Linked DNA regions of Homo sapiens: region 1 is linked to region 2. The links come from fine-mapping of genetic effects on gene expression. A gene starts in region 2. The other region holds a variant in brackets. All regions are shown on one strand. Distances are from middle to middle. Region 1 has its middle 26 kb from the start of CKAP4. Region 2 holds the start of CKAP4 (cytoskeleton associated protein 4).

Evidence for each region. PIP is the estimated chance that this variant, and not a neighbour inherited with it, causes the effect. A credible set is the group of variants that fine-mapping cannot tell apart.
Region 1: its variant is the best candidate, but not a certain one, in a credible set for the expression of CKAP4 in lymphoblastoid cells (TwinsUK, PIP 0.82).

The regions. Positions count from the first base shown.
Region 1 is chr12:106,271,645-106,276,026 of GRCh38, reverse strand. No RefSeq gene overlaps it. Among named protein-coding and RNA genes, the nearest start is that of CKAP4, 26 kb to the right of the region's middle. The variant C/TCCTTC (reference allele first, on the strand shown) is at 1,986.
Region 2 is chr12:106,245,495-106,249,876 of GRCh38, reverse strand. CKAP4 (cytoskeleton associated protein 4) reads left to right here and starts at 1,857. Exons shown (of 2, transcript NM_006825.4): 1 at 1,857-2,508. The coding sequence starts at 2,026. It overlaps LOC124903008 (a long non-coding RNA gene), which reads right to left and starts at 1,605. Exons shown (of 2, transcript XR_007063443.1): 1 at 1,118-1,605; 2 at 1-206. RefSeq lists silencers at 1,282-1,621, 1,652-1,961, 2,622-2,711.

The DNA of each region.
Region 1 (4,382 bases), 26 kb before region 2:
ATTGAGTTAATATATTGTAATTTACTGAATCATTCTCCTATTGTTAGACCTTTGTGTGGATTCCAGTTTTTTTTTCCTTGTCTAAAAAGCTCAGTAATAAGCCAGTCTGTGCATAAATGTTTTCCTTTATTTTGTATTATTTCTTTAGAAATGATTTCCAGAAATGAAGAAGTATGGGCAATTTTAATGTTCCTAGTGTTGCCAAAATAATTCCGAAGGCACGTGGAGAAGGAGCTTTTATCTCCAATTGCTTCTCTGAGCCCCTTCTTTCTTTCCTCGTTTCCAAGTGAAGGAAGAGGAAGAGGAGGAATATGATTGACCAGAGGCCCAGGCGCTTGTTGGGTTACCTTTACCGTGGGCGGGGTCACTGGGCAGAAAGAAGTCTGGAGACGGATACAGTGTCTCCTTTCTCTGCCAATCTGTTGAGTGCATTCCCAGATGAAAACTGACCCAGAACATGGACCCTTAAAGGAAGCCTGGGCCTTTCCTTGGCTCTCTTTTCTCCCATGCAGCAAGCGGGTCTGACTCCTGCCCGGGTAGATCCTTGCTAAGCTCAGAGGCAAATGCATTTTCTGCTGAGGTCTCTTTCTCTGTGGCTTCGTCGCATACAGCTCTGATAGATGTGCACCGTGTCATCTTTCTCTGCAAAATGGCCCACCCAAGATTCAGGTTGGGGAGAAGTTGAACCTTTACGTGTCTAGCCTTGGCTGTGCAGAACAGTTTCACACACCAGAATTCTGCTTTGGGGTTTGGGGCCTAAAGCCCAGCTAACAATAAGACTCTTTCTGGGTGTCACCTCCCTTCGGGACTGCCTGGGGGAAGTTTCTTCATTTGTGGAAGCTAGTGATAATGAAAGTCTCAGGTGGGATTTAGGTGTTCTCAGGATCTCTGGCTGCATTGTCCAAAATACTCTGGATTGTCGGTGACAGAACTGCAGCCCAGTTACCTCAAGGAAAGTTGGTAAATGTTTAACAACTGGCTTGCCAGGAAAAAAAAAAAAGAAAAAAAAAAAGGCCTGATTTGTAGTGCTTAGTGTTTGCAGAGTTCCATGGGCTGGAAACTCCCATCGGTAGACTGAGAGTAAATACTTCCGCCAGGGCTGATTTCAAGCTCCCAACCATTTAACAACCAGTTTACAAAATTCCTGAACATTTAACAATAGGCTGTTGCAAGCCAGAGAATCCCACTCTAGCACACTAAATGAAAAATGTAAAAAAGAGCAAAATGATTCACTCACTTCTGCAACATGTGGGAAGAGCAGGGACACAGAACGTGACCTCAGGAAGGAAGAGAACCAGGGAAACGAAGGCCAATAGGGTTCTCTCTGCAAACCAACCTAGTTTTTCCCAACTACAGATCCACTCTCTCTGTGTTTCAAGAGACGTCATGCCAGCAGCTGCCAGAGTTACAGCCTCACCAATTCCCAACCAGAGAAGAAGGAGGGCTTCGGTGCTGGTTTGAAAAATCCCAGTGCCAGGTTGGCCAGTCTTTAATTGTGTACTCTCCCCTGGGGTCAGAGGGTAGGTGCACTGCCTGAGGATCATGGGGTCTGTCAGGAGGTGGGGAGGGAGGGTTGCTGGCCAGGAAAAAAAAACCACTAATCCCATTACAGTGACCATCTCAATGCCATCAGAACCTCGTTCCCATTTCTGCTAGTCTCCAGAGTGGCCGAATCAAGGATAGCATGAAGAAGCTGTTTCACCCGTGTTTTGGCATTATATTTTATAGTTTTCTTTTCTTTTTTTTTTTGGGATAGTCTCACTCTGTCACCCAGGCTGGAGTGCCGCGGTGAGATCATAGCTCACTATAGCCTTGAACTCCTGGGCTCAAACCGTTCTCCCACCCAGGCCTCCCAAAGTGCTGGGATTACAGGAGTTTTCTTTATTGTGTTTGATCTCAGCTAATTTCACAGGCAAAAATAATAATCTATTGATATTTTAAGTACTTCTCTCTTTCCTTTTCTTTTCTTTCCTTTTCCTTTCCTT[C/TCCTTC]CTTCCTTCCTTCCTTCCTTCCTTCCTTCCTTTCTTTTTTTGATGGAGTCTCACTCTGTTGCCCAGGGTAGCGTGCAGTAGCGTGATCTCTGCTCACTGCAATGTCTGCATCCCAGGTTCAAGTGATTCTCCTGCCTTAGACTCCTGAGTAGTTGGTACTACAGGCGCGCGCCAACATGCCTGGCTAATTTTTGTATTTTTTTGCATAGAGATGGGATTTCACCATGTTGGCTAGGCTGGTCTTGAATTCCTGGCCTCAAGTGATGCGCCCACCTCAGCCTCCCAAAGTGCTGGGATTACAGGCATGAGGGAGCCATCATGTCCGGCCTATTTCCACTTCTTACGTCACAAGTGAGGTTAGCAATATGTTCCTAAATGTGAAGTAATTGTATTTCCTCTTTTGTGAATGTTTGGATCTTTTGTTCATTTACCTTATGGATAAGTTATTTTTAAATCTCTTTATTCAACAAATATTTACTCATTTGTTGTTATAGGCCAAGCATTTATAGATGCAGAAAATATAATAGTAAACAAGGCAGACAGCATTCCCATCTTTAGAGTACTTACCCTCTATTGGTATGGCCTGTTTAGAAAACAATACACTAAGTCTTGCTTGTCATACTCACAATGAATATTTTTCCTATAAGCTGTTTTTATTCTTCCATACAGTTGTTTTACATTTTTATGTGGTTGAATCTGGCCTACTTTCCCCTTTTACACAAGCTTTTTCTTCCATGCTTAGAAATTTCATTTCCTCAGCAAAATTTTAAGATATGATTCATTTTCATTATTTCTGATTTTCCTAGTCATGAAACTTTGTATGCAATTATTTAATTTATTTATAATTTATCATAGTGTGTGGGGTGAGCTGAGCGTCTACACTGGTTATTTTTTCCAAACATTGAACACTTACTGAACTGTACCTTTTTTCATTGATTTGAATAGATGACAATAGGCAGAACATTGATCAGTGGAGAGGTGAGATGAAGGTTGTTGAAGGGCAATTGGAGTTGCTCAGTTTAGGTAATTTGGTAAGGGAAATGGCAAGGAAATTTGTACATACAAGGCATTAATGCAGGCAGAGTTTGTCTGGAATAAAAGGTCCATATATTGTAGTGATTCTTAACCAAGGATGGACAAACCTGTTGACTAGGGAGCTCTAAAGACATACTCACGCCTGGGCTGTACCATTAGGAGGTTTAATGTACAGCTGGAACTCATTTATTTATCTTTTTGAAGCAGGGTCTCACTCTGACACTCAGGCTGGAGTACAGTGGCATGATTACTGTTCACTGCAGCTTCAACTTCCCAGGCTCAGGTGATTCTCCTACCTCAGCCTCCCTAGTAGCTGTGACTACAGGTGTGTGACCCACCACGCCCAGCTAATTTTTTTGTATTGCTTGTAGAGATAGGGTTTTGCCATGTTGTTCAGGCTGGTCTCGAATTCCTGGGCTCAAGTGATCCTCCTGCCTCAGACTCCCAAAGTGCTGGGATTACAGGTGTGAGCCACCACTGCTGGCCAACTCATCCGTTATTTATTTTATTATTATTATTTTTATTTTATTTATTTATTTTTAGACAGAGTCTCGCTCTGTCGCCCAGGCTGGAGCACAACTAATGTGGGAAATTGTGGCAGATAAAGCTGGTCTGGTAAGTAGGGAGCAGATTGAGAGAGATGGCAATGCCAAGCTGAATCTAGTTGTGGGTTCAGGAAGCCTCTGAGGGCACAGCTGAAAGAGCATGGACTTTGGACTCAAGCAGATAGAGGTTTTGATACTATTTTTACTGATTTCAGGCTATGTTTTCCAGTTTGCAGGTCCTCTCTCAGAGTCTTGCTTTTTTTTTCTTTCTTTTTTTCACCTCGAACAAAATTAATAATATCTACTTAATAGGCTGTGATGAGTCAATGGGAAGTCAAGTATAAAATACCTGGCTCAGCACCTTATGCGTAAATGAATTCTGCCTTCTTCCTCTTGAATGAGCCTTTGGCCTATGCCAGGCCTGCCTCATGGTTGCCTTTGGGATGAACTAATGTAAGACATTTCCGGAGAAAACATGCAAATACATGTCAAGATGATAAATGGAAAGAGATCCAAGTTGTCCTTTAATCCCAGAGGTTTCCAAAACCTTCAAAGAGGTTGTACTTTTTAGGAGAGGAACTCTTCTTCCTTAGAGAAATGGAGAGAAGCTTTGAATTTCCCAAAGGCCTTGCCTTCATAGCTTGACAAAGGCAAAACTTGGCTCCACTACAAGCCACCTCAGCTCAGTTGCAGAGATAATCCTTGCCCCTGGGCAGCTTAGCCTGGGAACCAAGGTCAGCTGTTATGAAAATAACACAGCCATAGTCATTTTTATAAAAGAAAATTCCTCATTCAAATCTGTTTACAGAGCAAAGAA
Region 2 (4,382 bases):
CAAGGCACTGCTCAAGGTCTTTCTGCCCCCAAAGCCTGCCCATGTACAGGCCAATGGTTTGCTTTCCAAATCTCTTTACATTTATGTTCCCAATTTACCTAAGTTAGCCCTCAACAGGTTTCTGTATATATCTCCAAGTGTAGTGCAGGCTCCTTGAGGGCAGGCACACAAGTGTTCATTCATTCACTGGAGGCTTTTAGCAACACCTTATAAAGCGAGAAAGAAGGAGAAATATAAACTATGGTTGCTTCCAGTCCTCAGGGAGGGGAGACATACCTGGCACACAGTGGGCCCTCAACAAAGGTTTGCTATATTGAACTAACATATATGCCTCTCGTTGCAATTACTTGCTAAGTCCCATGAGAGGTATCAAATGGTGTTATAGGGAAAGCATCATCAAAGAGGTGGCATTTGAACCCTATAGGCTTTAAGGGCAGGGCATGGTTTTGTCTTTGTTTACAGAACTGGGAGGAGGTTACAGACAGAAGAAACAGCATTCCTACTACACACAGTGCCAGGTGCACACAGTGCCAGGCACACATCACTCACCAGAAACTGGGGAAAGCAGTGGAATTGAGTGAGTTCTGTCCCTGCCCCGGCACCAATTAGACTGAGTGAGTGGGCAAGTTGCTTAACTTCCCTGGGCCCCCGTTTCCTTCCCATTCTGAAGTGATTAAGCTGCACAGACTTCAGAAAGAAGCAGACTGAGTGAGGTTCGAATGATGACTATATGTGACCTTGAGCCAATCCGAAGCCGGCTCGCTCAGTCTCAATTTCCTTCCTATAAAATGGGTAAAATAATTTCTACCTCACAGGGCTTTTGTGAGATTTCGAGAACATATGTGAGTCGCTAACCACACAGCCTGGCAATACCAGATTTCCTTTTACAAAAGTAGGGGTGACAACGCTGATCTGCCTCTTTCTGTGTGGCTGCTGCTGCCTCCGCAGCACCCATCCCAGAGGCTGTCAGGAGTAGGGGCCGTGGACAAACTTCATGACCCCGAAAGAGAAAACAGAGCTGAAGGGGCTTCGGGGGGAAAAAGTAAAGAGCTGGCCACAGCAGGCTAACTTGGCTAACGGGGACACTTGGTGAATGCGTCCCCTTGAACAGACTTACCACAGTCGAGAATCTTTGCTAACTCGCATCAACCATGCCTCCCAAGCTGGCTGGATTTTGGACAGCCTTTTTTGTCTCCGCCTTCAAACCCAAGGCAAAGGACAAGGCCCAACCCCATGGCGGGCTGGGAGAGTGAAAGCAGGGGGAGTCCCCCAATTCCCAGCGGAAAGGAAGGGCGATCTGTTCCCACCCGCTGACTCCCACTCCCGGGGCCAGGGCTCCTTGGGCGCCCCCCTTCATTTCTCTCCTCTCCGCACAGGTCGGGAAGGGAGGGGGTCGCGCTTGGCCCGCGGCGCAGGTTCACCCCGGCTTTCGTCCCTCCGACCCCGCCTGGCCGCCCATCCCCGACCCCCGTGGACCCTGCTCGGCCGCCCCGGCTGGGGTCGATCTGGCCCTCCGCCCCCAGCCTGCGTGGAACCCGCCGGGCCGCCAGCCCCACCTCGGCCGCGTCCCCTCCCCTCCGCTCCGCTCTTCTCCCCTCCCCTCGCGGCCACCTCGGTGCCCACCCCGGCCTCCGCAGACCCCGCCGGGACCCCGCCCCGCGCCCAGCCACCCCCGCGCCGGCTTCCCGGCCCCCGTAGACCCCGCCCGGCCCTCCCTCTCCGGGGTCGTGGCGGCGGGGAGGAGGGGCCGCCGGGCCGGCGTGCGTGGCAAGCTCTCCCGGCTCGGCTCGCTCGGCCTCCCTTACCGGGAGGCGGGGTCGGCGCCGCGGCGGCGGAGGCAGGCCCCCTCCTCCCGCCTCCTCGGCCCGGCCTCCTTCCCCGGCCGCGCGTCCTCTCGCCGCTCCGACGCCAGCAGCGCCCGCGTGCCGCTCGCCCAGTCCCGGGGGAGCCCCTGCAAGTTTCCCGGGCCGCGCGCCGCGCTCGCTCGCCTCCCAGCCCGCGGCCCGAGCCGCCGCCGCGCCCGCCATGCCCTCGGCCAAACAAAGGGGCTCCAAGGGCGGCCACGGCGCCGCGAGCCCCTCGGAGAAGGGTGCCCACCCGTCGGGCGGCGCGGATGACGTGGCGAAGAAGCCGCCGCCGGCGCCGCAGCAGCCGCCGCCGCCGCCCGCGCCGCACCCGCAGCAGCACCCGCAGCAGCACCCGCAGAACCAGGCGCACGGCAAGGGCGGCCACCGCGGCGGCGGCGGCGGCGGCGGCAAGTCCTCCTCCTCCTCCTCCGCCTCCGCCGCCGCTGCCGCCGCCGCCGCCTCGTCCTCGGCGTCCTGCTCGCGCAGGCTCGGCAGGGCGCTCAACTTTCTCTTCTACCTCGCCCTGGTGGCGGCGGCCGCTTTCTCGGGCTGGTGCGTCCACCACGTCCTGGAGGAGGTCCAGCAGGTCCGGCGCAGCCACCAGGACTTCTCCCGGCAGAGGGAGGAGCTGGGCCAGGGCTTGCAGGGCGTCGAGCAGAAGGTGGGTACCCCCGGCCCCGCAACTGTCCCCATCGACTGCGGCCTCCGGACCCACGGCCGGGCTCCTTCGTGCTTCCCGACCGGCCCCTAGCGCTGCCTGCCCAGGCCCGGAGGCGGGAGCCGGCCGCTCCTCCTTGGCGGGCCCTGGCCTAGACATCCCACTCCACGCGGCCCCCTAGTTCCGAGGCAGTCCCCAGACCCCCTTTGTTAATGGCTGCGGAGGAATCGGCCCCGAGGGATGGGCCGCCGCGAGGATGCCCAGGCCCGCCTGGCAGGGTGGGCCAAGGGCCTGTCACAGGGCATTAGCGGTGACCTGTAAGGAAGCCGGCAGGCTCCGGGGAGCCCATTCTTTCTGCATTAGGAACCGCTGAATGGGCAGAGCTGTCTGAAAAGGAGGTTGGAAGGGAAGCCAGCGCATCCCTGGAAGCCTCAGGCAAGGCCCCACCTCAGCTCTGCCTGTGGGAGACATCCGAGCGGGGTTTTTAATAGACCCGGAGCTGGCATTCTTACTCATTTGCAGGTCCAAATGAAATACCATCTATCTTTAGGTCCCTTGTCCTGTATTGGACCAGCCTGCCCAGGTGGGCCTTTGACGTAGTCCTACTTCAGCTTTTTTGGGTTTTCTTTTGAGAGGGAGTCTGGCTCTGTCGCCCAGGCTGGAGTGCAGTGGTACGATCTCAGCTCACTGCAACCTCTGCCTCCCAGGTTCCAGCGATTCTCCTGCCTCAGCCTCCTGAGTAGCTGGGATTACAGACATGTGCCACCATACCCAGCTAATTTTTTATTAGTAGTAGAGACAAAGTTTCACCGTATTGGCCAGGCTGGTCTCGAACTTCTGACCTCAAGTGATCCGCCTGCCTCGGCCTCCCAAAGTGCTGGGATTACAGGCGTGAGCCACTGCGCCCGGCCCTACTTCCGCTTTAGGGGAAGAGGAGGGCCAAAAATACTAGATCATACTGGTGAATAATACTTCTAGCCACATTTATATGGTGTTTAGAATGCTTACTCACTCACATATTATCTAATTCTTATAACTACCCTGGGAGGGAGGACTAACAGTTTTGATTTCATTTCCCAGAGCAGAACATTGAGGTTTAGACAGAGGAATGAGTTGACAAAGTCCCCAGCTGGTGAGTGACAGACACACGAGAATGTCTAGGCCACTGCCCTGTTCGTCAAGGGTCCACAGGGGTCCATTTCAGGTATGGATGGACCCAACTCTCAAGGCGAAGGTGCTTAGCTTCCACCCTTCTGTGGTTTTTCCATACCAAGTACAGCCCCTTTGATCTTATTCGCCCTCCACTATGTCATTGCTCAATGAAAGTTGGTTGCAAGACTGAAACAAAAAATCCCGCCACTTCTGATCCCGGAGCCACTGCCTCCTTTTCCCAGCATGCTGTCTGTCCTGCCAAGTTGCTCTCTGCTTTTGTTGAGTGTGCAGGACCAGGAATTTCCTCTTAAGACTGGCAGAGCACGGCCGGGCGTGGTGGCTCACGCCTGTAATCCCGGCACTGTAGGAGGCCGAGGCGGGCGGATCACCTGAGGTCAGAAGTTTGAGAGCAGCCTGGCCAACATGGTGAAACCCTGTGTCTACTAAAAATACAAAAATTAGCGGGGTGTGGTGGCACATGCCTGTAGTCCCAGCTACTCAGGAGGTTGAGGCAGGAGAATTGCTTGAACCCGGGAGGTGGAGGTTGCAGTGAGCGGAAATCCTGCCAGTGCACCCCAGCCGGGGCAACAGAGTGAGACTCCGTCTCAAAAAAAAAAAAAAAAAAAAAAAAGACTGGCAGAGCAACTGGAATGAGTCAGCCTGCTAAACGCTGCAGGCCAAGGGAGGTGACTTTTCTAAGGGAATTAAGTAGGCAGTGCTGCTTT